Linked DNA regions of Homo sapiens: regions 2, 3 and 4 are each linked to region 1. Evidence: fine-mapped expression QTL. A gene starts in region 1. Each other region holds a variant in brackets. All regions are shown on one strand. Distances are between the middles of the regions. Region 1 holds the start of LIMS2 (LIM zinc finger domain containing 2). Region 2 overlaps MYO7B (myosin VIIB). Region 3 overlaps MYO7B (myosin VIIB). Region 4 holds the start of GPR17 (G protein-coupled receptor 17).

Region 1 (7,463 bases):
CAGCGAAGACTAAGTGTGTGATTCAAGCCACTCTCTGAATGTCCCTCAGTGATGCCATCCCATAAGACCTGGGAATGGACACTGCATTCTCACCTTCCCTCCCCTTCCCCTCCCCACTTCCAACTGCCGTCTCTTCTCTGCCCCCCCTTTCAGAGCATTCTCCCCCCAGGGGCACTGTGTGCAGCACTCTGGGGAGCACCATCTACACAGACCCCAGGGAGGGGTGCTCCTGGGGGAGGCATTGCAGGGGCCCTGCCTGCCCCTCTGCAGCTGGACTCAGGCCCCTCACTCCAAGGGACCGGCTCTTGACCCAAACCCAGATGCTTCCCTGGCCTCTGCACGCAGCAGTGTGCACACGGGGCAGTGGCGCACCTCCTCCCTGGAGCTCTTTCCCTCCGGGCTTCTGTGGCACCTCACACTCTCCTGCTCTCCCCCTCACTTTCTGCCAGTCCCACCTCTTACCCTTGGAGGGCTCCTGACTGGTACAGACACCCCAGGGTCTCCATGGAGCCCTAGAGTTGAAATTCCATTTGTACCAAGCCTTCTGCATCTACGCTGGAGAATGGACCTCTCTTCCCTGCTCCAGGTTCACAGTGCCCCGCCCACCATCTCCCCTGGGATGCCTGGGGAGGGCCCAATGCAACGTCACCCCTCGCTAACCTGCCCAGACTGTCCCACTGCCACCAATATCTAGGAAAGCAAGGCCACCTGCAAGTCCTCTTGACTCCCACGGCTGTACATTCACACCTGCCACACACACACCTGCCCCACAACCACCACACCTGTGCTGACCACGCCCACGCCGGCCACACACACACATCCAGATTCCCAGCAAATCCTGTTGGTTGCAAAATAGATCCTGTGTTTGATGCCTTCTCAATGTCCCTACTGTCGCACGGCCCAAGGCACCAGTCCCTCCTGGACGCTCACCATAGCCTCTAATCAGACTGTCCCTGAGACCACTCTGTCCCTCACACAGTGGCCACACAGCAGCTAGGGACACTTCCCCCTTTTGCTATGAAAAAGTTCAAGCACTCATCAAAGTTGAAAACCCAGATACCCACCACCTAGATTCTCCCATTAATATCGTCGTAGACTCACGTTACCACCTCTCTGTCCTTCCCTTTACCCATCTCCCCATCTTGAGTTCATTTTTTAGAGGCAGAGTCATGCTATGTTGCCCAAGCTGGTCTTGAATTCCTGGCCTCAAGTGATCCTCCCTCCTCAGCCTCCCCGTAGCTAAGGACTAGCTGGGACTACGGGGATCCACCACATCGGCTCATCTTGATTTAAACAATGTATTTCAAAGTAAGTTGCAGACATCAGTACCTTTCTACCTAAACACTTCAGCATTGTATGTCATTAACTGGAGTTCAGTATCGTTTACGGTATTTTTCTTTTGAGGTAAAATGTACATATAATGAAATGTGCAAATCCTGGCCATATATTCCATGAGTTTTAACAAAGGCATATACACTTGTGTGACCCAAACTCCTACTAAAACATTGCCTGTTACCCCAGAAACTCCCTCACATTCCTTCCTAGTCAACCCCTGTCCTGCCACCTCAGGGCAGTCCGGGGTGTAATAGACCAGCCTGAGGCAGCCACCGTTCTGATTTTTTCTACCACAGACAAATGTTGCCTATTCTAGAACTTGATATAGATGGAAAAGGTGCTCTTTTTTCATTCAGTCAGTATTTCTGAGATTCACCCCTGCTGATGCTAGAGTGTTGTGTCTGTCTTTGCTTAGAACTCTCCATCTAAGGGTGGAATCCTACTTCTGCTGTGGCCCTGCTGCTCTGCCCTGGGCCCTCTCCTTTATTTCCCGTGCCCCTCCACCTGCCACCTCCCCTTTTTCCAGACCCACTGGTCTTCTTTCTGACCTTGCGTACCCCAAGCTCATGTCACCTCAGGGCTGTTGCACTTGCTGTTCTGCCGGAATGCTTTTCCTGCAGATGGCTGAGGGCTGGCTCTTTCCCTTATTCTGGTTTAGCTTGAATGTCACCTGCTCAGAAACTTTCCCTCACCCTTCACTCTAAAGCAGCCACCACCATTGTCCTTTTCTTTGCAGCACTTACCCTTGTCTAAAATCTAGTTTGCGTATTTATTTATTTGTTTATTGCCCATCCTCCACCTCCTGCTAAACTCCATGAGAGCCTGGTCCATGGCTTCTTTCTCCCCCTAGTACTTCCAGTGCCCATGCGGTATAAATACTCTTGAAGGAACAAGTGGATAAGTGTGTGAATGTGTGATTGCCAGCTCTTTCCTGCAACTCTGCCCTCTTGGCTGAACTGTGGGAGGCTGGCCCTGGCTCCTTGAAGCCTCTGCATCTCCAGCAGGGCTAAGCCATGCCCACAACCCCTACCAGCTGTTACTGAGCTTGCCCTGGCCCAGGGATGAGGCACACTGGGAGCTGCATAGGGTCCTGGTTTGGCCACATACAGATCCGTGTGTGCTCAGCTATCATATGCAGGGAGGCTTTTGGGCTAAAAGGCAGGAATGTGGTCTCCTCTGTGGAGAGCATGGGCCTCTGGTGTAATGCTTTCAACTTTTCATCCTCTTTGGTTCCCACAAGACCCTGATATTCAATTAACCGTCCAGCAGTGGATTTCTGGTGCACGGCCCCAGCATGCCTACACCTCTGTGTCAGTAATGGTGGAAAGCCTTTCTCCCTGTATGAGCAGGTGAGCCAAGAAATTATCCATACTTAAGCTTAATCAACCATCAAATTACAGTTAAGCCGAATCAGCTGAGACACGCTCGCAACAAGAAGTAATAACTCGAGACAGTCGGATCACCTGAGGCCAGGAGTTTGCAACCAGCCTGACCAACATGGTGAAACCCATCTCTATCAAAAATACAAAATTAGCTGGGTGTGGTGGCATATGCTTGTAATCCCAGCTACTTGGGAGGCTGAGGCAGGAGAATCGCTTGAACCTGGGAGGCGGAGGTTGCAGTGAGCGGAGATTGCACCATTGCACTCCAGCCTGGGCAATAAGAGCGAAACTCCGTCTCAAAAAAAAAAAAAAAAAAAAAGTAACAACTGCAAAGGCACTCCACAATACCAGCCACTTAGGAACAGGTGTCTTTTCCCAGCTTATTTCTGCAGGTGGAACTGCAGGATACTATCAACTCATCTTTCTGAACGGCACCAGTTTATTTGTGGGTTGCTAATTCACACCGTCATTTCTAGATCATCTTTCTCTGCTGCCAAGACCGGAGTAGCACCACATTTACACATCAGGCCGCCCAGCTCCCAAACCTCAGTGTGACATCTGGGCTGCTTCCAAAGATGAGCTGCACGCCACTGTCCAGCTGGAAATATCTGCCTTTAGGCAGGGCGGGGGTTTTTTGTTTTGTTTGTTTGAAAATTTCCTCCGAAGAGATTCCCTAAATAGTTTATATTACCCCTCCATCTTAACGCCTCTAATGGTAGCTTCTCAGCGCTTCATTATACAGAGGCGTGCCTGGTTCCCCTGGAAACCTGGGAGCTGGGCATTTGGTTTTGTCGTTTAAGAAATATCTTTCGCCAAGTTAGGGCGATGGCCCGCAACGGGGGATGAAATCGGAATTTCCCGGGGAAAGCAGCTTTGCGACTGAAGAGGGACGCCTCTCGGCTTTAGCCTCCCTGGGGGCGGGACTGCGTGGACTCGGCGGTCCCGGGTGCCTCGGGAGGGAGTCAGTGCCCAGATCCGCGGTGGGAACTCCGGGCTAGGAAAGCCCGGGAGGGAGGTGGTCTCAGCATCGCCCCCACGCCTACCATCTCCTGCACGCGTTTGCGGTTGGGGCGGCCCAGGGACTGCAGAGGGGGCGCCGGGCGGGGCGTCCCGGCGGGGCTGTGGGGGTGGGGGTGCTTGTTCGCGTTTATTATAACTTTACTCCCTTTAAAAGGAAAGCTATGCCCGGAATCCAGGAGGTGGCGAGCAGAGCCCGGGTTGGGAAGGACTTGACCCGCGCCCGCCGCTGGCCGCGCTCCGTGTCCCTGGAGCTGGGGCTGTGCGGGAGCGGGGCCCACCCTCTACCTTTACCCCTACTTTTACCCCCACTCCCACCCCCGCCTCACTCTCACCCCTCCAACCCCACCGTCAGCCCCACCTTTAACCCCCACCCCTCCAACCCTACCCGCCGCCACCCCCACCTGCCACCCCCACCCCCACCTATACTCCCGCAACCTCCCACCGTCACCTCCCCAACACCCCCACCACCCTCAGCCTTGACCTCCCCATCCCACCCCGCCCCGCGGGCCCCACCCTGCCACCCCCGCCCACCCCTCTCGCGGGCGGAGCGGCTCTTGGCCTTTTTTGGGCGTCTCCCTGCTCCGCGGCCCGGGCTGGCGGGCGGGCGCTCGGCTGGCGGCTGCAGCAGCAGAGGGAGACCCGCGGCAACCCCGGCAACCCAGGGCTCGGCGTCGCTGCCACCATGACGGGAAGGTAACGGCCCCCACCCACGCCCCCGGGCCGGGGAGGCGGGACTGCGGGACCCCTGGCCGAGGCGCAGCTCGCCCTCGTACAGCCCCGCGGCGCCACGATCCCCGCTCCGCCCTGGCGCGTCGGATTCTCGCAGCTGCCGGGGCGGCAGCGCCCGTCGGGGCAGGGGTCCCCCAGCCCCCGCGCCTCTTCCTCTGGGCGAGCGCCTGCAGCGGAAGGTGGAGCTCCTGCCCACCCGCCCGCTGCAAGATGGGACAGCCGTCTGCTCACAACCGACGCCCAGGGCTGCGGGAGGGGGTCTTGTCCAAGGTCAGACACCAACCACGGGCAAAAGGTTCAAAGGTTGCGTGCCTCCCCCAACTTCCCCGAGCCCGCGCTGTGCGATCCCCGATCCCGGTGAGTGTCATCTCTGGAGCCTTCCGTTTCCTCCTCTGTAAACCTGGGGTGGTAAAAATGTTAAAAATGTTGAAGGGTATGTTGGAACTTGGCCAGAGCTGCGCCCAAGCACCAGCTGTGCAGGGGTTGGTTGGGGACAGGGCGCTCCCCTGGGCCTGGCCCACCCTCTGCTCTCAGGCCCCTCGTTGCCATTTCACAGATGAGGTCACCAGAGGCCACAGAGGCTGAGCCACTCAGGAGGCCAGTCACAGGTCCACCAGTGTCCGGCCAGTGTTTGTCCCTGCAGCCCTTTCTGGAACCTAGCTGGGTACAAGTGCATGACTCAGGACTGGGTGGGAGGGGGCTGTCCCTGAGGCCCTGGTCTCCCCCAGCCAAGTCCTGGCAGGGGGATGCTGTTCTTCAGGATCCCATGACCTGGGGCTCTTGGGGAGCCCCAGCCCGGAGAGTGACCTGTGGCTTTGCTGGGGAAAGGGGCTTGGAGGGTACAGGGCAGTGTCCAGGATTGCAGTCTCAAATCCGAGGCCCACAGGGGAGCTGCCTCTGTGATCGCCATTAAGGCTGTGGCCTGGGGTCTCAGGGCAGCCCAGGAACCAAAAATAGCCTGTAACTTGTCACTTTGTAAGTCCTGCCCTCCAGACACACTTCCCTTTCTTCTCCCCAAGCCTCTCTTCCCAGTTAGCTCCCCTGACTTGGAGTCACCTCTAAGCCTTGGCCCAGGCCCCTCTGCAGTGAGATGGAGGGACTCATCCCCCGGAGAGTGGCATCTGCAGGCCCACTGGCTGCCTGTGGTCACCCCCTAGGGTTCTAGCGGGGCTGCCTCCCATTTTCCTCAGAGCATCCCTGCCAGCTGGCTGGTTCTCACTCTCCTGTTTTCTAGGAAAAGAAAGTGGGGAGAGACAGGAACAGGGTCCGGAGCAGCCCCAGCAGCAGCATTGAGGTGGAGGTGGGTGAGAGGCGGTTCCTTCAGGCACAGGAGGGATGTCGAGGAGAACAGAGCCGTGAAGGGTGCGGGGCTGGAATGGGAGGCCCCGAGGTGCCACTGCTCCCTGGCAAGGGTCCTCTTGCCCCTGAGTCCCTTGGGCCTTTCCCTGGAGACGGAGGCCGTCAGGTGAGCCCGGCCGGAACCGCTGGGAAGGCAGGTGGTGGCGAGCAGGGGTCAGCCTTCCCTTGCTGCTGTGGGCTCCAAGGGCCTGAGAAACTCTTACCCTCAAATGACACAGGGATGACAGTCAGCCTTTGGCAGGCACTGTGTAGGGCGTTCCTCGTCCAGGCAATACTACTCGTCTTAGAGAATAAGGAGAAACCTGGAAACATAAAAGATAACAGAAACATAAAGAGAAGGAAACTGCCACAGTTCCACTCCCAAGAGCCTCCCTTTATGCAGTTCGGTGGCTCCCCGCAGTCCTTTCTCCTGGAGTTTGTTTGACGCAGCTGTGAGCGATCTGAGTGTAATGCACCCGCTCCTTCAAAGGTGACCCTGCTGCCCGCAGTGCTGGTGCCCCACTGGCTTCCCTGCCTTCCATACACAGGGATTGGGCCGGGCCAGTCTGTGAGGAACAGACATCCAACCCGGCCTTCGGAGTGGGCGAGAGTTTTCCTGTCCCAGAAGCAGTGGAGTTTCATTTCCACCGTTTCATGCTGGGTGCCCTTCCCCACGTCCACTGTTCCCATGTGATCCCGGGCAGCTCCTCGTGCCTGGATCCTGGTTCTCTCGGGATCCCCCATGCTGCCCAGAGCCAGGCTGCTTTTGGGAAACACCCTCTCTGCTCGCATACCTTCAGGGCTTCTCCCTGCCAGCTCTCCCTAGGACCTCACCAGGCAAGAGCAGAGGGAGGGCTGTGGGGAGCCACCAAAGTGACCTGGAGTGGCATGTGTGGCCATGCTGTCTGCAGATGAACCCATGGGTGCTGTGTGGAGAAAGGGCTGCTGGGAAGGAGATGGGGAAGGAGACAGAAGGCAGCCACTAGGGAGGCCTCTCCTGGGTGGCTGAGCGGGTGGAGGAGAGGAGGCTGACTCAGGGTTCTGGGAGGTGGAGTGGACAGGACCCAACTGACTGGCTGTGAGGTGGGCCACAGAGGGTGGGGCTCGGGAGGATGCCCCTCCTGTGATGACAGGTGGGGGTGGATGGCATGCTTGGTGTGGTTGTGGAGTGCTTGAAGAGCTGTGGCAAGTCTGAGGGGGAGCCGTGGGAGGCACCTGGGCATGGAGGGGCTGAAGCCCAGGAGTAGCCAGCTGGGCAGGGAGTGAAGGCAGCCCAGAGCATGGGGTGGCACGCCGTGGGAAGAGAGGGGGCTCGGCCTCAGCAGCAACTCAGGGACTTTGCAACTTACAACCACAAGATCTTTGACTATCACAGCTGAAGGGACCTCTGGCATCACCATTGTTCTACAGGGAGGATATTAAGGCCACCTACCTAGGGACCCAGCTGTCCCTGGCATTCCTGGAAATGGAGCCTGGGATGTTGACACCCACGGCCACGTGAGCTCAGTGGCTTGGCTGCATAAAGTGGAGTCCCACCCATGGTGTGACCGTCATGTGTGTCACATGTGAGGCTGTCGTATGCCTGATTGTGTGCTGAGCCCATGCTTAGTACAGCGCAGAGCAGGCTGCTAGATCCCTGCCCTCATATCCACCAATCTT
Region 2 (7,463 bases), 55 kb after region 1:
ATAAGCTCGGTGCTGACAGGGTCCTCCCGGGAGTCGTGCCAGGGGGTGAAGAATTCCTTCCGGAAGTAGATGCGCCAGGGTGACTGGCGCTGGCTCTCGCCCCTCTCCTGGGCCATCTGCTCACACCGGGCGATGGCATCCATCATGTGGTCGCGCCCGCTGCCCAGGGACCAGAACTGAGGCCAGAGTCGGGGAGCAGGGGTTAGCGGCTGTTGCATGCCCCACCCCACGGGGACGCCCACCGTCAGCGTGTGCACGTAGAAGACAGGGCCTGGGGCCCTTGGAGCCCAGCGTGGGCTGAGTGGACACTGCTGAGCCCGTGTGGACACCTGAAGGGCTTCTCCACACAGCAATGGCCCATCTGCCACTCCCCATTACTCTCCCTGCAGCCCCTTCCCTAAGGAGGCAGACATGAGTCTGGCCGATGTGACTCATCCGGCGCCTCGGTTGGATGACTGGTGTGTGAGTCTGAGGGTGTGGGCGTGGAATTGGGGGTGCCTATGTGGGCGGTGAGGGTCTGTGCTGGTGTGACCCTCCATGTTTGCTGCAGGGGTGTCCACAGCTCCTGGGCATGAGGGAGTTTGGAGCAGGAGACTGGTGTGAGTGCCTGATGTCTGTGCGTGGCTGCTGGGTGGGGGACCAGGTGTGCATGCGGCACTGCTGGGGCTGAGGCGCAGCTGCAAGGTGACCATATGAGTGCGGGAGGAAAGGCTGTTTGCTCTGTGTGTGTGCACCTGCCTGTGCCTGGTGGCTGGGAGGGTAAGCAGTGCTGTGCCTGGCAGCTGGGAGGGTAGGTGGTGGCCGGGCTGGAAAGGTGAGAGGGCTTGAGCCTCAGGGTGCTCTCCCTGGGTGTATGAGGGAGGCGGCTGACGGGCAGGGTGCCTGGCTGGTACCTTGTCGTACACGGCGACCTGGAGGGAGAAGCCCAGGTGGTCGCTGAGGCCCTGCTTGTGAGCGATGTGCATGCACATTTCCCGAGATGTGGAGGCTGAGTCCACGGGGACGGTTAGGCTCTCTCCAGTGGCCAAGATGACTTGGATGGGGATGTGCTTCTTGGACTTGACAGCCTGGGGACAGATGAGATTCAGTTCCCTGGCCTCTTGGAACCTATGGACAGGAGGCCAACCCCCCATCCACTACCTCCCTCCTCTCCCCAGCCCATGGGCCCTGCTTGCCATCCCGTGGGTTCCCAGGGGTGGGCCCTCTGAAGCCCCAGGCCATGGGCTTGGCATAGAAAACAAAATTCAGGCCAACAGGTGTTTGCCGCTGGAAGCACAGCAACCAGGCAAGAGCAATGTTAGCCACAGGCGTCCAGGTCCTCCTGGACCTCCAGTGGGGGCAGCCTGAGGCCATAGTGGCTGCTTTTATGAGAATCCTGAGCTTGGTGTGGTTCAGTGACTTCACCTCACAGAAGACCAGGAGCTCTTGGGAATCTGAGTCCAGGACTCGGGAACATTTTGGGGCCTTTACGTATTGTTCCCTTGTGTCAACATGCACAGCTACTGCAAGTTCACCTACAATTCCAGGGCTCGTGGGAGGGAGCCCCTGTGGGCTCGGGGGCAGGGTGAGAACAGAAAGAAGGTGCAGCGGAAGTGACCCACAGCTCCTGGTATAGGGCACCTCGGGTCACAGGGCGGGCACCTGCCGGGGTTAGGCTGGGGCCAGAGCTTTGTGTAGAGCCGGGTGCAGGTGTGCTCTCGCCACCCTGGCTGGCTGTTCTGAATGACCCTTCCTGAGAAAACAGCGAGAATTCACAGATGACACAGTTGCCAAAGCAGGTCGAGGTGGCACATGTGCCCAATAGCAATGCCACCAAGGATGCCAACCATGGTGTGACTACTGCCCTTGTCACCAAGTGAAATGCCCTTGGAGGGGAGTGCTGGAAGCAACTGGCGCACTGTAATGCTAATGAGTGGGTCCGGTGATCTTCCCCTTAGCTAGTAGGGCCCTAAAGGAATATGGATTTGGAGATGGGGGTCACGCCTGGGGAGGCCGAGCCCCAGGGGCACTCACAGGGACCACTGGCATGGGAGGTACTGCAGAGGAGATGGCGGGGCTCAGAGGACAAAGTTCTGTCCTAGGAGAAGGCACCCCATGAGCTGTGCTGGGGGTCCCTGGGGGTCTGCACCACCCCACCCTGCCCGCTCTCACCCCTGCCAGCCCCTACCTGCAGCTCCAGCCAGGTGGGGGGCTCCGCACGCACCCCATTGGCATAGGTGCGTCTCAGGCGCTCGGCACAGAAGGGGCCGTAGGTCGCCGGCCCTTGGCCGATGAAGTTCAGTAGATACTGGTGGGTGAGGAGGGGAGAAGGGAGGAAGACACTCAGAAAGGAGGCCAGTTTCTACTCACCACCCAGGTGGACTTAAGAATTATAATACTCAGTGTATAATGTGCATTGAGGGGCACCCTCACACCCGTTAGAAGGAACATGGATCAGTGTGTTTCTGAGGAGCAGTTTGGCAACACGTTTTAAACGGTGCATAGTCTTGATGTGTGCACACTCTTTGTCACAACAATGCAGGCCTATCCTAAAGGTGGATGTGTGGTTTTTGATTGTGATGGCCTCTATGGTGATGAATGACTGGAAGATGGACTCTAAATGCCCACCCCCAACCCCAGTGCCTTCTGGAACAGCGAGGCATCAAGCTGGCATTTGGGAGGTTGACACCATGAGAAAACATAATGAAGACAGTAAATGAAAAGTGCAGGGCCAGGCATGGTGGCTCACACCTATAATCCCAGCACTTTGGGAGGCCAAGGTCGGAGGATCACCTGAGGTCAGGAGTTTGAGGCCAGCCTGGCCAACATGGTGAAACCCCATTTCTACTAAAAATACAAAAATTAGCCTGGTGTGGTGATGCACACCTGTAATGCCAGCTACTCGAGAGGCTGAGGCAGAATTGCTTGAACCCGGGAGGCAGAGGATGCAGTGAACCAAGATCGCTCCACTGCACTCTGGCCTGGGCGACAGAGTGAGACTCCGTCTCAAAAAAAAAAAAAAAACAAAAAAAAAAATTGCAGAAGAGTCCATGTCCCCAACATGCTCAAGAAAACACATTGAAGTTCTTTTTGTCTCACAGAGAGATGTTATTTCTTCTGCCTTGGGGTGGGGAGGAACAGCCTGGAAGGGTTTACTGGTGTCAGGAGCAGCCTGAGTGCCATGCGCAGATGGCTTCAGTGACCGTGGTTCCTGCTGTCCCCAAAGGGACATGTGAGAAAGTGTTTTCTGTTTGATCACAAGGACCCTGTAACACCACAAAAGGCCAGAAGGAAATATTAA[C/T]GGAAGTTAGCTCTGAGTGTGGGGGTGACTTTTATTTTGGTTTTAGATGTTCTGCATTTCCACATATTACTTTTATAATCAGAATTTAAAGGCATATTAAATCAGTGAAGCTTGGGGCCACTAACACTCGGCCAACCCAGCTCCATTTTCAGTCCTAAGAACTAGAAAGAGGTGCCGTGGCACATCTCCAGGCAGGGCCCACTCCTGGACACCTGTCTTTTCAAGGCCCGTGTCATCTACCTTCTCATTTTAGTCTTGAAGCACCATCCTGACACCTGAGCCAAAGTGAAATGGCCCTGCAGACCCTGCGTAGGGGCTGGAAGGAGCCAGGAGCAGGGTCCTCTTTTCCAGATGGGGAAACTGAGTCCTGGAGAAGCATAGGCATGGCTGCCCATCTGGCCTGCAGGAGCAGGAGAAATGGGCCACGTACTGGAATCTGTGGACCTGCTCCAGGGCCAGGGGCCACCTACGCTCCCACCAGAACCTGCCCCCTGCCCGCCCTCCCTTCATGAACCCTCTCACCTTCATGAACCTCTCTGAGGGTGGGAAGCAGCCGAGGCAGAGGCTGAGCAGGATCCAGCCCCGGGCCAGGCTGCTTGTTTTGAAGTTCTCCGAGAGCTGCTTGCAGATCTGGCAGTAAATCTCATCCCTGAAAGACACAGACCATTAGGAGAGTAGGCTGGGGGCTGGAGGAGGAGAGGAGACAGGGGTACCTGGGCACACAGCTCTTGTGCACCTCTGAGAGGTCCCATATGCAGGGCACCTCTCCAGCGCCGGGGCCCTGCCCAGCCTCCTCCTCTCTCAGGACAGTGCCACCAGGCTCTGCATCCCTACTCGATTCCTCTCCCATGGCCTGTGCTCTCGGTCCTTTAGGGTGGGGCTCGGCTTCAGGAAGCAGCAGGTTCTCCAGCCACAGCCCTGTCCTCAGCAGCCGCGCCCTTTGCACAGCCCATCTGCTCCCAGATGTGCGGGATCCCCAGTCTCACGGTGATTACAGTCATTTCTCTCTCTGCCTTGAGGCCCCACCTCCCTCCCTGAATGCAGCCCCTCCCCTCCACAGCAGAGAGAAAAGTGAGGACTTCATGGGAGCCACTCAACCCCATCTCCTGACCATTCCTACTCCCACGGTCTGTGGAGCCTCCCCACTCCTGGTGGGGGTGTGTTGGGGGCGGTTCTCTCCTGCGTCCTTCCCCATGGACTCAAGCCTCTATCATGTTATAAAAGTGGCCCATTAACACCTCAAATGCCACATCTCCAGAGGCCAGCATCTTTCCCCTAATACTCAGTGGTGTGCTGGTAAATGTTTATCAACCAGCTCCCCCAAGAAGAAAAGCCCAATTCACAGCATTTGCTTATTTCTGTGGTGTACATGTTCCCACCAAAGCCAATGTCAACTGCGACACGACATCACCGAACAGAGATGGGAAGCAATGTGCATGGCTGGCTCTCTGAGTTCCTGCATCCCTCCTCTTTCTGTGGTCTACAGGCATCGCCATCAGCCATTCACCCAAACTGGAAATCTGGGGGTCATCCTGGAGCCCTCCCATCCCTTCATTCCTCCAATCCAACCAGCCCCCACCATCCATCCAGCCCCCACCACCCAGCCGGCACCCACTACTCAGCTGGCGCCCACCACCCAGCCGGCCCCCACCATCCAGCCCCCACAACCCAACCAGCCCCCACAACCCAACCACCCCCCACCACCCAGCCAGCCACCACCATCCAACTGGCCACAACCCAACCAGCCCCCACAACCCAACCACCCCCCACCACCCAGCCAGCCACCACCATCCAGCTGGCCACCACAACCCAACCAGCCACCACAACCCAACCGGCCCCCACAATCCAGCTGGCCACCACAATCCAACCAGCCTCTACCATCCAACCAGCCCCCACAACCCAACCAGCCCCCACAACCCAACCAGCCCCCACAATCCAACCAGCGCCCACCATTCAGCCAGCCCCCACAACCCAACCAGCCACCACAATCCAACCAGCCCCCACGATCCAACCAGTGCCCACATGCTACCATCTGTCTCCTGCATGTTTCCTCTGTCCCCTCCTCTTGGCTCCTGTTCCTTGGGCAATTCCTCATCAGCTCTCTCTGGATCTCTGTAGCAGCCCTGCCTGGCCTCCCAGCCCCAGGCTCCATCCTGCCACATCGCCAGGGAGGTCTTTCTGGAAGTCAAATATGATCAAGATCCTCTCTTGCTTAAAACTTTCCCCACTTCCCTTAGGATGGAATCCAAGCTCCATGCCCCAACAATGGCAAACCACTCATAAATTCCAGACCCTGTGGGCTGTCTCAAGGGTGACTGATGCAGGCCGAAAGAGTGAGGGTCGTGATCAGCTCAGTATACCACTGGAGGCTATATGAGCAAACAGCAAACTGTTCTCATAAAAGCAGAATGTTGGCAAACTGACAAACTGCGTCTGCCGCCCAGAAGGAATGCTGAGGGCAGTCACGACCCAGGCACAAGTGTTTCTTGTGATTATCTACAGGGCACACCTGAAGCCTGTTAGTAATAATATGAACCTGTGATCAGTTAAGCAGCTGACCAATCGTTACCTCCTCCTCCCTGCTTATTCTACCCAATAAATACTAAGGGCTGAAGAAGCTTGGGGTGGGGGCTGTCTTTGCTTACTAGGAGTAGGGAGCCCTTTTTCTTCCCCTGGCCCCTTTAAAACAGTTTCTTTTGTTTTAAGTTTTCATTTCTACGTTCATCCCCCTTCGTTCCGTCTCGTAATGACGGTCTCAAGTAGTGACAGTAGTAACTCCCGTAATGACGATCTCAAGTAGTAACAGTGGCAAATTGCTGCAAGTGCTGCCTGGACAGGGACGTAACAGGGACAATCAGGGACAAACAGACCTGAAGGGACCTGAAGAGGCCTGCAGGGACAAATAGAGATAAGTAGGGATAAATAGAAATAGAGACAAATAGAGAGAGCTAGGGAAAGACAGGGACTTGCGGGAACTAACAGGGACTATAGGGACAGATAGGGATAGACAAAGACTAGCAAGGACTAGCAAAGACTAGGAGAAACTTGCAGGGACAGACAGGAACAGATAGGGACAATAGGGTCCTATAAGGACTTGAGCGAGGAAGGTCTGCTGGAGCAAAAAAAAAAAAAACTAAAGCCCAGAAAAAACTAAAACCAACCAGATGAATAAGAAACCCCGTTACAAGGCCGGGCGCGGTGGCTCACGCCTGTAATCCCAGCACTTTGGGAGGCCGAGGCGGGTGGATCATGAGGTCAGGAGATCGAGACCATCCTGGCTAACAAGGTGAAACCCCGTCTCTACTAAAAATACAAAAAATTAGCCGGGCGCGGTGGCGGGCGCCTGTAGTCCCAGCTACTCGGGAGGCTGAGGCAGGAGAATGGCGTGAACCTGGGAAGCGGAGCTTGCAGTGAGCCGAGATGGCGCCACTGCAGTCCGCAGTCTGGCCTGGGCGACAGAGCGAGACTCCGTCTCAAAAAAAAAAAAAAAAAAAAAAAAAACCCCGTTACAAGTCTGCTGGCAGCATAAGGTCAGTGCTTTAAAAAGGTACTGGTCAGTGTCCTAGAGGTACAAAGAACGGGAAGTTTTTCAATCAGGGTAACATGGGGAAGAATTTGGTTCTCTTCTCTTTTTTGTTTGGAGTTTGGTACATACCATTTTCTTGTCATTTCAGGGTTTGAGAGAATTTTTTGCCCCACCTACAGCACCTATCGAAAGTGGTGAACGGGAGAGGAAGGATGAAAATTGGCTTGTACCGTCTTCTTTTGCAGCTACAGAAAGGCGAACTTTAGCTTTGTCTTTCGTGGCTTGTAAACGTGCGCTGGTACCTGTGAGATGTGCAGAGGACTTGGGAGGTTTTCTCAGAGCTTGTCAAGATGTGGGAACTGAGCTTCATTGCTCTGCAATGTTGACTCAGGCAATGGCTAATTTGGTAACTGACAGATCTAAAAGAAGCCAAGGGTTAAGCCCTAAAGTGGGAAAATGTTATAAATGTAGGAAAATTGGACATTTCAAAAAAGAACACCGCCAGACCTCTGGGCAAAAGGGATCTTATAACACGGTTCCCCTCCCAACAGAAAAACACCAAGACTTTGCCCTCATTGCAATAAAGGAAATCATTGGGCTCATCAGTGCCACTCAAAATTTCATCAAAATGGCACCCCCCTGTCGGGAAATGAGAAG
Region 3 (7,463 bases), 38 kb after region 1:
TCACCTGGAGTGCCCCCACCGGGTGGTGGGCTCTCATGTTCTCATGGGTACACTGGGAACAGTGAGCCCACCACCTCCCCTGATGACCTGGCCAGCGCTGTGTCCGGAAGCTGTGCCTTGGGTGGCGGCTTGGGTGGGAGGCCATGCGGTCCTGCCCTGATGCAGGCCCCAGCCCCCAGCCCTCATCCTCACATGCAGATCCCTGGGGGAATGCAAGGTGCTGCTCAGTGATCCCAGGCTTGCAGGGGGTGCCTGCAGGAGGCCCCACGTGGACAGGCAGGGCCGCCTCTGCCTATGAGGGCCCACCATGCCGCAGCACCAGGCTGGCACCTGACTCCTGGGGCTGAGGCTGCCGAGGGGGAGGCCAGACTGGGAGGGGATGGTGACTCACAAGGTTACCATCAGTGCCTTAGAGGAGGGGTAGGGTCTGCTGACCCCAGGGCATTCACAGAGGTGTCAGTCCCCTCTGCCCAGTGTGAATCCTGAAAGGCCTGCACCTGCCCAGACTCTGCTTTCTGTCCCCTTCTGTCACTGCTGCCTCCTGGGGCCACTGTGGTCCCCTGGAGTCACTGGCTCCTGGGGTCACTGTTGTCCCCGGGTCACCACTGTCCCTCGGGGTCACCGCTCTAGCCCTGATGCCACCCGGCCCGCCCTTTGTCCTTGCAGCACTTTGTCTGTGCCAAGTGTGAGAAGCCATTCCTGGGGCACCGGCACTATGAGAAGAAGGGCCTGGCCTACTGCGAGACTCACTACAACCAGGTGAGCCCGGTGCAGAACCTTCAGGGATGCGGGTCTGGAGGGGTGGCCAGGAGAGCTGCCGTGAGCAAGGGAGGCTGTGGGCACCCCCTCAGGAGCTCTGCCAGGTGCTGAGCCCAGGCCTGCACCCTCAGCCCTGGCTCCTGGCCTGGGGTCTCGAGACCTGGGCAGCTCTCTTCAGTCTCAGTGTCTTCCTTTGAAGAATGTTCTGGGGCTGGTGTGAGGTCCCGGGCACATGGGGCTGACAGTGCCAGCAACCCCCTCCCTCCCTTGCTCTGGTACAGAAGGCAGGGGGCGCTGGTGGGATGCAGTCACCACCTGGGCCCACCTCCTTGCAGGACAGCAGTGGCCAGAGCAGAGGGGCCTTCTGGGGAGCAACGCCCCAGCCTGTTGTCCTTCCCGGAAGGGTGGTTCTCATGGGTTGCCGTGCCCTCAACCCAGCCTTGCAGCTGGGCCCTGGGAGGCAGGGCCTGGGAGATGCCTGAGAGGGGCCGTGTTGGAGGGCCAGGCTGGCTGCATGATGGCCCTGGGCTGGGGTGTGACTGCCTGCAGCTACTCTGACAGCCTGCTCGGCCCACAGCTCTTCGGGGACGTCTGCTACAACTGCAGCCATGTGATTGAAGGCGATGGTGAGGCCCTGTGTTCCCTCCCCCACCCCACCTGCTCTCCTGGGGCCTGGGTGCTGCAGCTGTGAGCCCAGCCGGGCCTGCGGCAGCCTAGCCAGGCCTGCTGAGTCCCACGCTTCCCTCACAGTGGTGTCGGCCCTCAACAAGGCCTGGTGTGTGAGCTGCTTCTCCTGCTCCACCTGCAACAGCAAGCTCACCCTGAAGTGAGTCCCTGTGATCGTGGGATGGGGCTCAGGGTGGAGGGGGCTCCTGCAGGTCCTTCCTCTCAGCAGCCCTCCTGCACACCAGCTGAGTCTGGCCTGGGGATATGGTGGGGACAAGGGGCAGCCCGGCCTTATACCACCCAGGGAGATGGGGGCAGGTTCAGGGGGTCTAGGGGATCCAGGGACCCCAGGGACCCCAGGCACAGTGAGAGGAGGAGGAACACTCATGCCTCCAACACACCTGCCAGAACCCTGGGCTCTGGGGAGGGAAGGGCATTCCAGCTCAGGGAACAGCATATGCAAAAGCAGCAGTGTCAGCTGCTCATCCAGGAAGCCTCGAGGGGTGTGGGATGGCTGGAGCTGGGAGAGGAGAGATGGCGTCCAGGTTTCCAAGGGCTGTGGGGAGGCATAGAGGGTTCTGGGGTTTCAGAACCTGAGAGAAGCCTCTGGGAGGCAAGGGAAGCCTCAAGGCCCTTCTCATCCCTATGCTCTCTGGCCATCTCACCCTAGGGCCTGGCCTGCTGGCTAGGAGAGGCTGGTGTGGGGAGGCTGGGGGCTGAGGGAAGCCCACTCCACAGTCACCTGTCTGGGGTTAAAGGGGTGGGCGTGGGGCTCTGCTGACAGCTCAGCTTCCTCCTCAGGAACAAGTTTGTGGAGTTCGACATGAAGCCCGTGTGTAAGAGGTGCTACGAGAAGTTCCCGCTGGAGCTGAAGAAGCGGCTGAAGAAGCTGTCGGAGCTGACCTCCCGCAAGGCCCAGCCCAAGGCCACAGACCTCAACTCTGCCTGAAGGCCCTCTTGCGCAGCTGCCTCTCGGCCCCTCCGCCTTCTCCCCTCCTGCTGTCCATGCTTGGCCCCCTCGTCCCCATCCACCTGTGCCCTCCGCATCTTACCCTCCCTTTCTCTTTCCTCATTGCCTTCTCCCTTCCTGTTCCCTCATCTCTGCCTTCCCCATGTCTCTCCTCTCCTTGGCCGTGGCTTCTGTCTGTGAGGAGGCAGGAGCTGGGGAGTGGGAGCCTATGACCCCACGTCTGACAGCCATGTCCACCTGTGCCCACAGCTTCCGCCCACAGACCTCCAGGGACAGGAGCAAATTGCACCACAGCTCCCCGCCTGGCCTGGCCCTCCCCAGGCGGCTCAGTGGCTCATGCTGTCCTGTGAGAGCCCCTGCCCCAGAGCGGCCCCACTAAGCGCATGTGGCTCCTGGGCTACCCACAGCCAGGGCAGCCTGCTGGAGCCACAGGGCCAGGGCCATGCAGATGGAGGCCTCTGGGAGCCACCTCCAATCCCTCACCACTCACTCAACCAGTGGCACAGTGTCCTTGTGCCCACACTGAGCCAGCAAGTCCTGCTGTCCACACCCACAAGCTACCTGGAGGGACAGGACCCACCTCCATCCTTCGGAAGGCCTTCCTGGAATCCCACCTTGGCCTCCGCCCTCGGTTCCGCCCCGCCCCTCTCCCCCCGACCTTGGGGCT[T/G]GTGTCGAGCCCTTGGGTGGGGCCAGGAGGAGGTGATGGCGTCAGAGGAGGTGTGGTCAGAGGTGACTTGTTCCCACCTCCAGGGAGGACGCTTCGTCTTCGGCCAGCGCAGACCTGGTGTTTGTTTGTTGGGCTCACGCTTGCACAATGAAGGCTTGTTCACACAACCACAGCAGCCTGCGTGGTTTGTGGCGGGGGTCGGGGGTGGAGGGGATGGCAGCAGCTCTGGACACGCTGCTGCTGGGGCAGTTGAACAGAGGGACAGACATAGACAGGCACGAGTTCAGGGGGCCCTAGCCTCTATCCCAGGCCAGGCTGCCATAAGCAGTTGAAGACTAGCCCTGCCAGGTCCTCACAAGCCTGGGTGGCCAGGTCCACATAAGCTGGCCCAGTGGGCAGAGGAGGAGGTGGGCAGGGACAGGGCATGCCAGCGAGGTGGGGGAATCCAGGCCTCCAAGGTGCTATGTCCAGCTCTGCCCACTGTCTGTCTGGGCATAAGCTGGCCATAGCATGAAGCCAGCAGCCAGAGAGCCGCACCTCCACCCTGGCCTCCTGGGGGTAGCGCAGGCGTATCAATGCCCCGGGTGGGGAGAAGGACAGAAGGTGTGAGGAGGGGCCTGGGAGGAGAACTCTCCCATGAGTGCCCCTCCCCAGTCTGAGAAACAGGAAGGAAGGAAGGGAGGGGGAGGAAGGAAGCAGAAAGGGAGGGATGAAGTCATTTCTGGAGAATGCAGCTGCCCTCCGGGTTCCCTGGGGGAGTCAGTCACACGGCATTTTGGTTTTTCTGCAGCTCTCTGCGGGCCAGAGCCTCCCAGGCCCCCTGTCCACCTTGTGCCACACCCTGCTCCCTCAGACAGACACACTTCTCCTGCTCCAGGAGTTTTTATTGAACATTCTGGTGGGGTGGGGTGGGGTTGGGAGGTGTCCTGTCAGTCAGTCATCCACCAATAGCCTGGGGGTCCGAGACTCCCGACCCCATTCTGGGCCCGTCTTTTGGCCTCCCTGGGCAGCGCCCAGGACAGAGGGGGCCGCCTGCGGGGCTGAGTGGGCTTTGTATGGGGGGCAGCATGGAAGGCTGCCCGCCAAGGACAGGCCCTGGGTTGAGAGGGCCTGGGAAGGTGCCGCCAGGCTAGAGGTCGGGAAGGGCGCCTGAGCAGACACGCCAGCATCCGCTGCTAGGTGCTGGCCAGGGCTGGGGCCTTGGAGCCCCGCTGCTTGTTCATGGCACTCAGGAGCTGCTGCACATATGAGGTCAGCAGGTCATCCATCTTATAGCCCTGGACAGGGGACGGGGGGGTCAGAGGCTGTGGGTGCAGAGGGCAGGTGGGGGTCCTGGACTCAGGGACCACCTTCTCTTCCTCAGCAACCAGCAGTGCAGGGCATGGAGAAAGGGAAGGCGGGCTCCTGCCATTGGGGCCGTCATTTCTGCTTGCCCTGCTGGAGCTGGGTCTCCCTCCCTCCTTGGAATGGGCCAAGGGCGCAGGGGGTCCCGCCTGGCCTTGCCACCTTGGCTGCTGGTCCTGGGGATGCACCCAGGCCCTCTCCAGATCTGCTGGCCCCGCCTGGGCCCTGTGACTGAGCCCTCTTAGTGAGCCACTTGAAAGGGGTGAGGGTGGGGAACCCAGTCTCCAGCAGCTCTGTCCTATGCATCTTGGATGGGAGAAAGAACCTGAGCTCACCAGGGAGGTCTCGCACAGCAGGCGGCTGCCACGGCCCAGGCTCCCCAGCGCCATGTGGAAGTAGGTGCTGCCGCTGCTCCAGCTGGAGATCTTGGTGAAGGGATAGGTGGTGAGCAGGTCCTGGGGGCAGAGAGGGTGGGTGGGCCGGACGCCTCCAGAGCACGGGCTCTGTGTGTGTTAGGGGACAGGAGAGAGGCAGGACACACCGCAGAGATGACTGCAGCCCCACCTGCACAGGTCCCTGGACCTGGTGGCCCCCAGCCCCTCCGGAGGCCCAGCAGCTACCTTGGTCTTGGGGTGGATGAGCAGAACCCCATGTCGGTTGATGGCGATGAGGATGACGTCCGGGTAGGAAGGCTCCGAGGTTTGCTGGGAGGGAGGGACACGGCGGTCATAGTCCAGCCCGGGAGGCCAGGCTGCACCTCCCAGGAGCTCATCTAGGCCACACGCACATACACACATACACCCACGCCCTCCAGCCTCACGGCCAGCCCCACCCAAGATGTGTGCTGGTTGACGCTGGGCCTGCTGGGGCTGGGCTGAGCGGAGCCTGCTTGGGTAGGAGGCCCTGGCGTGGGGCAAGGTTTACCTTCACCTCGAAGAAGGCGGATCCGAAGGTGGGCCACCGGCAGATCCACTTCAGGAAGGCCACCTTGGCCTCCTCCACTGTCTTGTCCTTATGCTTGTCATAGGCTAGAAGGATGCTCTGGGGGACAGGAGGGCCAGTAAGGACTTGGGTGCCCAGAGGCCCTCCAAAGCCCTGGTGGGGGCAGCACCTGCCTACCCCAGGGCTAGTACGGTGGGGAGGGGAGGGGAGGAATGCAGCATGGGACAGTCTCGGTGCTGTGGATGGCATAGGAAGGCGTGGTGTGTGCAGAGCCAGCCCACCCTCCACACCACCCATGTGCACCCATGTGATCTTGGAGCCCAGGCAGGGCATGGCACTGGTGCAGGGGCCCAGGGAGGAGCAGCAGCACAAGAACCCTTCCCCAGCCCGACCAGGGACCTTTTTCCACTCCTCCGAGGACATCAGGCGTGTGAGGTTCTCAGGCACCAGTTCCCTCAGGATCTTGGGGACACTAGCCAGCTGGGACCGGTCGTTGTTGAACTGGGCCTTGTAGATGAGGCCCGCCAGGTGGATGGCATCCTCCCGCGAACACTTGTGGAATCCGCGCAGGTACTTGGGCAGCTCCTGGGTGATGGACACACTGGGCATGCTGGGTCTCCAGCTGCGGCCCACCCGCCCCCAACCTCTTTCCCGCTCAGATGGTGGGGAACTGGGGCTTAGCCCACTCCATCCAGGACGGACTGAGCAGGGTAGAGAGTTTCAGGCCAGGGGAATGACCCTGAGTCAGGGCAGGGCCCCCTGACATCTGCGTGGAGGTGATGGCCTGCTCCACCCATGTGGTTGGCCCTGCAGGCCACGGCCACTGCTCCATGGGTCACAGGACCCTCTGTCCCACCCTCTCCAAGTCATGCTGCAGGTGCCAGTGCAGTCACTGTCCCCAAACATTGCTGCCCTCTGCTCCTGGTTCCAGAGCCCTCAGGGGCTTGGTCTGCCTACCACATGGGCTGGTACCCAGGGCTGAGGCTGGCCCTGCCCTGGCCTGCTGGCTTCTACAGCCTCAGAACAGGTGTGGGAAGATGGGGGTGGCCCCAGTGCCCACCAGGGCAGCCTGCCCGGTACCTGGTGGTAATGGAGTATGGTGTCTGCATTCACATCCTTCCCTGGAGATATGTTGAGCCACAATTTCCGCATGAAGTACACCTGGTAGGGGAGCGTCACGGGGGCCCCTGGGCGAGGGCCAGCAGTGGGCACCAAGCCTGTCCCAGCAGGTACACCAGCCCTGACCCCCTGCCACCCCCCACACTGCGCCTGCCACCTCCCTGCCTCGAAAGCCCCCACGCTTCTTCCTCCCCAGTCCCCACATTTTCCTTCAATATTAGTGTAGAGGCTGCCTTCTCCAGGAACATTCCTGGACTCGCACTCCCAGCCCATGAGGGTCATGCCCCTCAGCCCTGGGGCATCCTTCATCACTCCAAGGTGCAGCCACCTGTTTCTGCCTGAGCTGGCCCTCACCGCCGGGCCCCAGGGCCTGGTTGTTCCCACAACCCAGGGACACACGGGAACGAATGGATGGATGAATGGGCATGGGCCGCACAGAGGCCGCCAGTGCCCCCTCGACCCACCCAGCCACGCCCTCCCCCAGCTCCACAGAGGCCTCCTCACCTTCTTTCTGGGGCTTGTTCTTCTTCACCCAGTCAGACACCTCCCTCAAGGAATCAAAGAAGAAGTCTCCCTCCTTCTGGCTGATGACCTGGGGAAGGGGAAGGTACAGGGAAGTTGGGTGGCTTCCGGGGACTGTCCTCCTGAGAACCTGCTGGGTTCTGGTCCAGTGGCCGCCTACGGCCTGGGTGCTGCGCTGGAGTCGGCTGTGCGTGGGCTATTGGCGTGTGGAGCTGGCTCTGCTCCAGGACCCCACCTACCTCTGTCCCAGCAGCCCTGGCCGTGCAGCCTGGTCCAGCATGGGTGCCCCTGGTAGGCTGAGGCCCCCACAGGCAGCACCTAGGGCCTCGCTCACTGCCCGTCCGCCCACCGTCTGCCCAGCCCCAGCCCGGCCCACCTTGTCTGAAATCTTGATGAAGAGGCTGCAGCCCTCCCAGGAGGCCAGCTGCAGCCTGGTGGCAATGCTGTCACACACATCCCGCACCCGTGTGTTGG
Region 4 (7,463 bases), 26 kb after region 1:
GCGCCGACCCCCAGAGGCCCCAGCCATGCTTCCCCTGCCACACTCTCTCTGTCCGGGCACTCTGCTCCCTCCCGCAGCTCCTCCGAGATGCTTCCCCGACACTACCGAGCTCTTGTCCGTGTGCTGCCCGTGAGAGAGGCACGTGGCCTGGGGCCTGGCGTCCGGCCCACTGTCCTCGGAGCTGGGCGGTGCCTGGCATTGAGCAGCTTGTCTAAATGAAGGGCTGAGGGGCAGACGGTGCAGTGCAGGGGCCGAGGGACAGCACCAGGAGCTCGTGCTGACCAGCAACGTCGCCGACAGGGTGTGTGGAGCGAGCCCAATCTCCTTCCTGAGCCAAGGTTTGCACAGGGCCACTGCCCCAAGGGCTGGTTGGGGAAATCTGAAAGATGCTGGAAACGTTTTGGAAAGTCAAACATGCTACAAAAGCATGTTGCCGTAAGGACGGTGCAGGGTGGCAGCTAGAGTGAGGAATGAGGGCCCCTACTTGGCCCTCCCAGCCCCACAGTGCAGAACCTCAGAATCTGGGCAGATGTGCTGTGAGCTGCCAGAGCCCCAGCAAGAGAGCCCACGAGGCTGCCTCTGCCACTGTACCACCACTTCACCATTCTTGGGTCAGAGAAGTTCTGGGAAACGCTTCATGTTGACCAAACATAACAACCTGTGTAGTCTTAAAGCTACAGTTATATTTATGGTCCGTACAAACAAATACAAAAAAGGACATGTTAGGGAAATATCTGCACACTAGCAAGGGAAATAGCTCAGGCGGAGAGAGGCCTCTCTGGAGGAAGTGGGTCTGGGTCAGTGGGAGGCAGGTGCACAGCCCAGCCCTGGCCTGAGCTGAGCTCCCGTGACTGCACATGCTTGTCCAGGACTGGGAGGCCTGGGAGCCTGTCAAAGAGCTCTGGGGGTTGCAGGCTTGTGCGTGGGGTTACAGCAGGAGAGATCCAGAATCCAGAGCTGTGCTGAGTCCCTGCAGGCCGTGAGTGCTGACGTCCGCTGGCAACCAGCCTGAAATGTGTGGCCTGTGTCTCTTCAACTCAGGCAGTGTGTGTCTGGCAGAGGCACTACAGAGGGGACTCAGAGTACCTTGCACTGCAAAGGAGTATTGAGACTCCCTCCCCGTCCCCACCAGGACTCCCAGGTCCCTCTTCTGGGTCATTTGCAGCCTGCCTTCAGGGTCTTTCTGCTGAGCCTCGCCGATGAGCGATTCTGTAGCGGGAAGGAGGCTGGGAGCCTAGCGGGAAAGAAAGGCCTCCATTGTTCAGGGGTTGTTCTTCCGGCCTCCTCTCTCCCTGCCACAGATGAAGTCGTTGAGTGTCTAGGAGCCATTGTAGCCATCACAAGCCCCTGCAGAGGGGTGGCCGATGGATCCCCTTTGTCAGTTCTTCCTTTTTATGGGTTGAGACTAGGCGATCTAGAGAAATGGTGGGCATCTGCTGAGATTTCAGGTTGCTTGCTGGGGAGGTGGCTGGGGAAAGGGCAGATGCCTCTTGCTGGGTCTGCTGAGTCCTAAACAGTCTGCGCTCGGCCTGGACGGCGCCCCCCGCTCACAGCTCTGACTTGGCACTCAGCGAGCTCTCGTTGGTTTTCCCTTCGAAGCTGGGGGGCGGGCCCTTGAGCCTTTTGCCACAGAGCAAGTTGCACAGGGCGTGGCGGAACTTCTCAGCCACGAAGAAATACATGATGGGGTCGAGTGCCCCGTTGAGGCTGGTGAGGCAGGAGGTGATGCGGTTTGCCAGGGCCAGGATGCGCTGGGTGGCGCAGGAGGCCCCATGGCTGCGGTAGTGCAGCACGTAGACGGAGCGGTTGACGTGGTAGGGCACGAAGCAGACCAGGAAGATGGCCAGCACTATGGCGATCATGCGCACTGCCTTGGTCTTGAGGCGCTTCTCCACACGCAGGCCCTGCCGCAGGCTGCGGATGATCAGCAGGTAGCAGGTGACCGTGGTGATGAACGGGAAGGTGAAGGCCACTGCCAGGGACACCAGGGCATGGTGGGAGGCCTTCTCCCGGTACAGCTGCAGGCAGACCACCGTGTGGTTGGTCTGCACGGTCTGTGGGCTCACCAGCAGCGGGGCCATGGCCACAGCCACCACCACCCACAGGAAGGCACAGGCCAGGTGTGCGTAGAGGGGCCTGCGGAGCTTGAGGGACTTGACCGGGTGCACAATGGCCAGGAAACGGTCGGCGCTGATGCAGGTGAGGAAGTAGATGCTGGCGTACATGTTGAGGTAGAAGAGGAAGCCGGTGAGACGGCATGCGATTTCCCCAAATGGCCAGTGGTTCCCAGAGAAGTGGTAGACCAGGCGGGTGGGCAGGACCAGCACGCACGACAAGTCGGCCACGGCCAGATGCATCAGGAACACGTTGGCCGGGGTCCCGGACTTGTGGTCTCGGATGAAAAGCCACAGAGCCAGGGTATTGCCAACTAAAGCCAGGATAAAATCCAGAAGGTAGAAGGAGGCGAACAGCATGTTCTCCAGTGGCGTCTCCTGGCCACATTGCTCTGCCGTGGCCAGGGAGAAGTTGGTGATCAGACCTGGGGGAGCCACTTCAAGGCCATTCATGCTTTGGCTGGAGTCAGAGCCTGGAGGGAACAAGCAAACAGTTCACAATGAGCTTGCGATCTAGGCAGCTTCACGCTCTCTGAAGTCCAGAAGTCAGGCCTCCAATGCCTTCAGAACCTCCCACTTTCAAGCTCAGCACCGCCCACGGGGCTGCTGAGGGGACCTCCTTGTCCATTTGGTGTGCGTGAGCGTCAGAGGCATTCTGAACTTCAGCACAAGGCAAACGCAGAACCAGGGCTTGGAATTTCGCCGCTATGCAGCTGCACCCCTGCCACCCAGGAGATCTGAGGCTCCTCAGAGCTGGGAGGACCGGGTCAGTGCCATGGCGGGGAATGGGACGTGAGCCTTGCCTGGGTGAGGCTCTGGGTTTTCTGTTCTGCCTCTGAGGTGTGCTGTCTGAGTGACAGGGGTGGTGAGGGGCGGGGGCAGTGTGTCTCCGGGATTCCAGCTCCTCCTCAGCCCAAGCCTTGGCAGGTGAGTTCTGTTCATCCTGAGTGCCTGGACCCTCCCTGACCCACCTGCCCACAGGTGCAGTGGCCGGGGTGTCACCGCTTTCTGCTTCCCCTGACCATGGCTTGCCCCTGGCACTTAGGAGGGTGCCCCCAGGATGGCAGCAAGGGCTGTACCCTGGGACGTCAGAGGTCTACTCTTTTTACCCACCTGAGAGTTTCAGCATCTCTCTTGGGGGCTTTCTGGATCCAGCCCACCAACTCCGTTTGGACATCCTGACAGGTGGGGAGACCTGTGTTTAGGAGAAGCCTGTGCCTGGGTATCAGGCCAGCTGGGAGTATTTTCTCTCCCAGAGTAGATCCACCACCAGGGGGCAGCATCTCTTCCAGGAGGGGAAGACCCATTTTACCCAGCGTCAGAGACACTGGCCAGCGCTGTTGAGGACGGATCTGCAGCCCCAGAGAGGCCTGGAGGCCTCGTGGCTTGCCCACGTTTGAAGGCCAAGTGCAGAGCCCTGTGACAGTCCTGGGTAACAAGTCATGTCCGTCTGGTGAACCCTGGGTCTGGATAGGGTGCTCCCCACCCTCAGCAGAGAAACCCACTCTTGTTTTGATTTTAGTCAACTCAGAAGATTGAAGAAGGAGAGTGAGGGTCCCAAACACTCTGCCTCCCCAACCCAGGCCTGCGAGTGGCAGTGTGGGCAGGCGGTGGGGCCAGAGCAGCCCGCAGCCCGGAACCAGGGCAGGACAGCGCACCTGGCCTGCCTTTGAATTGGGGTCACCAGCGGGCTTCGGCCAGGTGGGTGCTGATGATGGCACAGCTTCTGGGGCTCCTCTGGGCACCTGGCTTCCCAGTATCCACCATCCCCACCCTGCACAGCCAGGCTGAAGCAGAGGCTGGAGAGAGGTTTGCA[T/G]AAGAGAAGCTGGCATCCTGCCTGTGCCCATTGTGGCAGCAGGAGGGGAGGAGGCACGGGCCACAGCCCTGGCAGGGTCCTCATCCTGGGCGAGCCTGGCTCTGCACCGAACAGCCGGGGTCCTGCCTGCAGCAAATTCACTCTGCACATTTCTCCCTGCCCTTCCTTCCTTCCTTCCTTCCTTCCTTCCTTCCTTCCTTCCTTCCTACCTTCCTCTCTCTCTCACTTCGCTTTGCTTGTTTGCTTGCTTTTCTTTATTTTCCTTTTTTCTTTTCTTTTTTCTTTTTTTCTTTTCTTTTTCCTTCCTTCCTTCCTTTCTTCTTTTCTCTTTCTTTCTTTTTCTTTCTTTCCTCCCTCCCTCCCCTTCCTCCCCTCCCCTCCCTCCCCTCCCCTCCCTCCCCTCCCCCCCTCCCCTCCCCTCCCCTCCCTCTCTTTTTTCTTTTTTTCTTTCTCTTTTTCAAGGTCTCCCTCTGTCACCCAGGCTGGAGTGCAGTGGTGCAATCAGCTCACTGCAGCCTCAACCTCCAGGGCTCAAGTGATCCTCCCACCTCAACCTCCTGAATAGCTGGGACTACAGGCGCACACCACCACACCCGGCTAATTTTTGTATTTTTTGGTAGAGACGGTTTTGCCATGTTGCCCAGGCTGGTCTCAAACTCCTGGGCTCAAGTGATCCTCTCTCCTTGGCCTCCCAAAGTGCTCCTTGGCCTCCCAAAGTGCTGGGATTACAGGCATGAGTCACTGCGCCCAGCCCCTCTCCTCTTACTGATTCCACAGGGCTGTCTCAGGATGCTGGTGGCACGGGGCAGAGAGGGCATGGTGACTGTTCATGGACACAGCAGCCCCTCGAGGAGGAGGCTGGAGCCATCCTCATATGGAGGAGAAGCAGGCATGGTGGTGGCCCTAGCCCTAGGGAAGGGTGGGCCGCACCCTTCCTTCAGGAGAGCGAGTGGCCAGCTGCTGTGGCCCTCACATGGAGGGTGAGGGCTGGCCCGAGCACCTGGCCATCAATGTCCTCAAGCAAAGGGGAGGGCAACTACCTAATAATATTACCTTTTAGCTATTTCTCTAGGCAGGTTCCCCTACCTGAAAAGATTGCCCCCGGCTTCAGAGTGTTTCAAGATGCCTGAAGTTCTAACACCAGAGATGGTTTCCTGCTGCTTCCAGGAACAGGGTCTGTTCTTAGTCCAATGTGGAGTTCCTCATGGGGACCCCATTCCCCAGGAATCCAGGTTCCACAGTACTCTGACTTGGTCTGGCTGGTCTCGGCTGGCACTTTCCCTAGGACTGCTAAAACCACGGTGAGGGCGGAGAGCTGAGGGCCGAAGAAGGCGGGGTGAGTGATGCTTGGGAGAGGGAGACAGGCTTGGCTGAAGCCCTGGGGAAGGGCTGAGGGCTGTGAAGGGGGCTGTGGAGGAGAGGTAAAAGGAGGGAGGAACACAGCCCTTGACAGGGCCTGTGAGGCAGGGGAGAACAGGGAGCAGGTACCGGTGGGACGGTGGCAGGGGAGGGGGGCCCATGACTTTGAGGGTGTCGTGTTGCATGTGCTGGGGGTGAGGACCCGGAGACTGGAGGAACAGGGCTCCAGGGCAGACGCATGGGCAAGCAGAGAGGACAGCCCATGGTAGATGGGAGGGGCACACAGGTGTGCTGTTTTCAGGTTGGCAGGAGAGGAGGAAGGTGTGTGCGGGGAGGCCCTGGAGACTGGAAGAGGAGAGGGGGCCCAGTGAGTGAGGGGCCCTTGTTAGAACCTGGGGGTGGGAAGGGGCCAAGGTGGGTGCCCTCCACCCCAGGCTGTCCCTCAGGCCTGTGCTGTGCCCCACAGTGCAGGCATCACCTGGCCCCACGAGAGAGCAGCTCATAGGTACGACTGACCACTCTGCCTGGCATGGTGGGGGCCTGCCTGTGCTGGCTCAAACCAGTTTTAGCCCCATGTTGCAGGTTAGGGAGTCAAGGCTGAGTGTCTGCTAACTTGTCTTAGGTCACTTGACCAGGGGACATTGGCCCTGGAGCTGGAAGTGAGACCGGGGAAACGGTCTCACTCCCTGGAAGACCGCCAGGGTGGGGAGTGTGACTCAGTCTCAGAGTTTGCCATGGAGTTGTCTCCCAGGCTCAGCACCCCCTCCTGGCCCTGGGGCCACTCCCTCATTTTAGGGGCCCATGTATGAAATGAGAATGTGCAGCCCCTTGCTCAAAAAGGAAGAGTTTCAGGACAGTGACGGCAGAGTGTTACTGGGCTCAGGGCCCTGAGTGACGGCAGGGGTGGCATATCTCATGGCACCAGGTGGGCCTGTGGTGCCTCCTGCCTCCAGCCCGGGGGCCTCAGCCTGGGCACTGCCCTCCACTTCCTGCCCGGGCCGAAGGGCGTGCCCCTCGCTCTCTCTGGGACTGAGACTCCATTTTAAACAGCTTTCTGGTTGGTTTCAGGTTTGCTGAGGTTTCTTCTCCCTTTCTGTCCCCCGTTTGAGGAGTTCTGATACTGATTGTTGCAGTTTGGTCTGAGATGGGCCCCGCTTCACTCTCTGTTGCCCTTTAGAAACACAAACTTCAGTCTAGACTCGCTGGTTCCTCACGACTCACTGGTCAGACGGCCACCGAGCCGGTGTCCGTAAGAGGAAAGGGCGTGGCATGGGCCGGGGCCTGGGCAGTGTTGGGTCCCGTGGCTGTGGGTGAGTCGAGCATCTAGGACAGGTCATAGGCCTCTGTGGAGGTGGCAGGTGGGCATGTGTGGCCTCGGGGAGGGCCTGTGGTGGCAGCGCCATGGCCAGGTGGTGGCAGTTTCCTTTGCATTAGCGCCACTCCATCCCTGGCCCGAGCCCTCTCCCAGGCATCTGGCTCCTCTATGGGTCAAGGCTGCCTAATGGTTAGGGGCAGCGGTGCTGTCATTGCAGCCTGGACTGCCGGCAAGCCACTTCCCCTCTGCAAGCCCCCATCAGAGGGACGAAACACCGCTTTGTGGGCTGCTGTGAATTCAGACTGTGGTCAGCCTTCGATGCACAGGTCAGACCATCACCAAAGAGATGGGACGAGACAGGCTGCTGCCTGTCTCCCTGGGCAGGGCTCCCCGCTGAGTGTTTCCTCTGCTTAGCCCTGGGCTCCCAGTCCACCCCACCCAGCCTGCCCCTTACCTCTAGCTGCTGGTCCGGGAGGAAGGGACAGGGGTCTGCGGGGCAGCAGGTGATCTCCGCCCGTGGGTGTCGGTGGTGGCAGGGGGCTCCTTGCCGCTGTGGGTGGAACGCTGGCTATTTAAGGAGAGGAAGGGAGACCACAGCCCCTCTGGCCCTGAAAGGCTGCTTCATTCCTGAGGGGTCCCTTGTTGTGTCGGGCTGCTCCTCTGGCTGCTGCTGCTGCTGCCACCGGAGCGTGAATATTCTAGTGTGTCCCTAGCCCATGCCCCCCGCCCCCAGCTTGGCCACATAGTCTGAGTGTGTGACTGTCTCAGAGACTCAGAGCAGGCGGGGGCTGGGTGGGGGGCTTGGGCTGGAGCTGAGGGACACAACAGGACGTTTCAGAAGGGGATGATTTCCTACTGA

Evidence for each region. PIP is the estimated chance that this variant, and not a neighbour inherited with it, causes the effect.
Region 2: its variant is fine-mapped to the expression of LIMS2 in whole blood (INTERVAL, PIP above 0.99).
Region 3: its variant is fine-mapped to the expression of LIMS2 in whole blood (TOPMed, PIP above 0.99).
Region 4: its variant is fine-mapped to the expression of LIMS2 in tibial nerve (GTEx, PIP above 0.99). The same link has a PIP of 0.9 or more in sun-exposed skin.

Annotation. Positions count from the first base shown.
Region 1 is chr2:127,671,981-127,679,443 of GRCh38, reverse strand. LIMS2 (LIM zinc finger domain containing 2) reads left to right here and starts at 3,914. Exons shown (of 10, transcript NM_001161403.3): 1 at 3,914-4,430. The coding sequence starts at 4,420.
Region 2 is chr2:127,616,806-127,624,268 of GRCh38, reverse strand. It overlaps MYO7B (myosin VIIB), which reads right to left. Exons shown (of 48, transcript NM_001393586.1): 27 at 3,803-3,929; 28 at 2,168-2,287; 29 at 894-1,067; 30 at 1-176. Among named protein-coding and RNA genes, the nearest start is that of MYO7B-AS1, 10 kb to the left of the region's middle. RefSeq lists an enhancer at 4,021-4,070. The variant C/T (reference allele first, on the strand shown) is at 3,281.
Region 3 is chr2:127,634,192-127,641,654 of GRCh38, reverse strand. It overlaps MYO7B (myosin VIIB), which reads right to left. Exons shown (of 48, transcript NM_001393586.1): 41 at 7,366-7,463; 42 at 6,972-7,059; 43 at 6,429-6,535; 44 at 5,748-5,933; 45 at 5,331-5,447; 46 at 5,027-5,110; 47 at 4,742-4,861; 48 at 3,929-4,339. The coding sequence ends at 4,238. LIMS2 (LIM zinc finger domain containing 2) reads left to right here. Exons shown (of 10, transcript NM_001161403.3): 7 at 667-759; 8 at 1,337-1,385; 9 at 1,510-1,585; 10 at 2,227-3,229. The coding sequence ends at 2,374. Among named protein-coding and RNA genes, the nearest start is that of MYO7B-AS1, 7.1 kb to the right of the region's middle. RefSeq lists enhancers at 2,016-2,961, 2,962-3,908, 3,909-4,855, 4,856-5,802. The variant T/G (reference allele first, on the strand shown) is at 3,063.
Region 4 is chr2:127,645,840-127,653,302 of GRCh38, reverse strand. The region is part of intron 4 of LIMS2 (LIM zinc finger domain containing 2); the gene reads left to right. It overlaps GPR17 (G protein-coupled receptor 17), which reads right to left and starts at 7,150. Exons shown (of 2, transcript NM_001161417.2): 1 at 7,059-7,150; 2 at 664-2,587. The coding sequence starts at 2,567. The coding sequence ends at 1,548. RefSeq lists enhancers at 837-916, 1,436-2,161, 2,162-2,889, 3,295-3,589, 3,616-4,343 and 1 more. The variant T/G (reference allele first, on the strand shown) is at 3,931.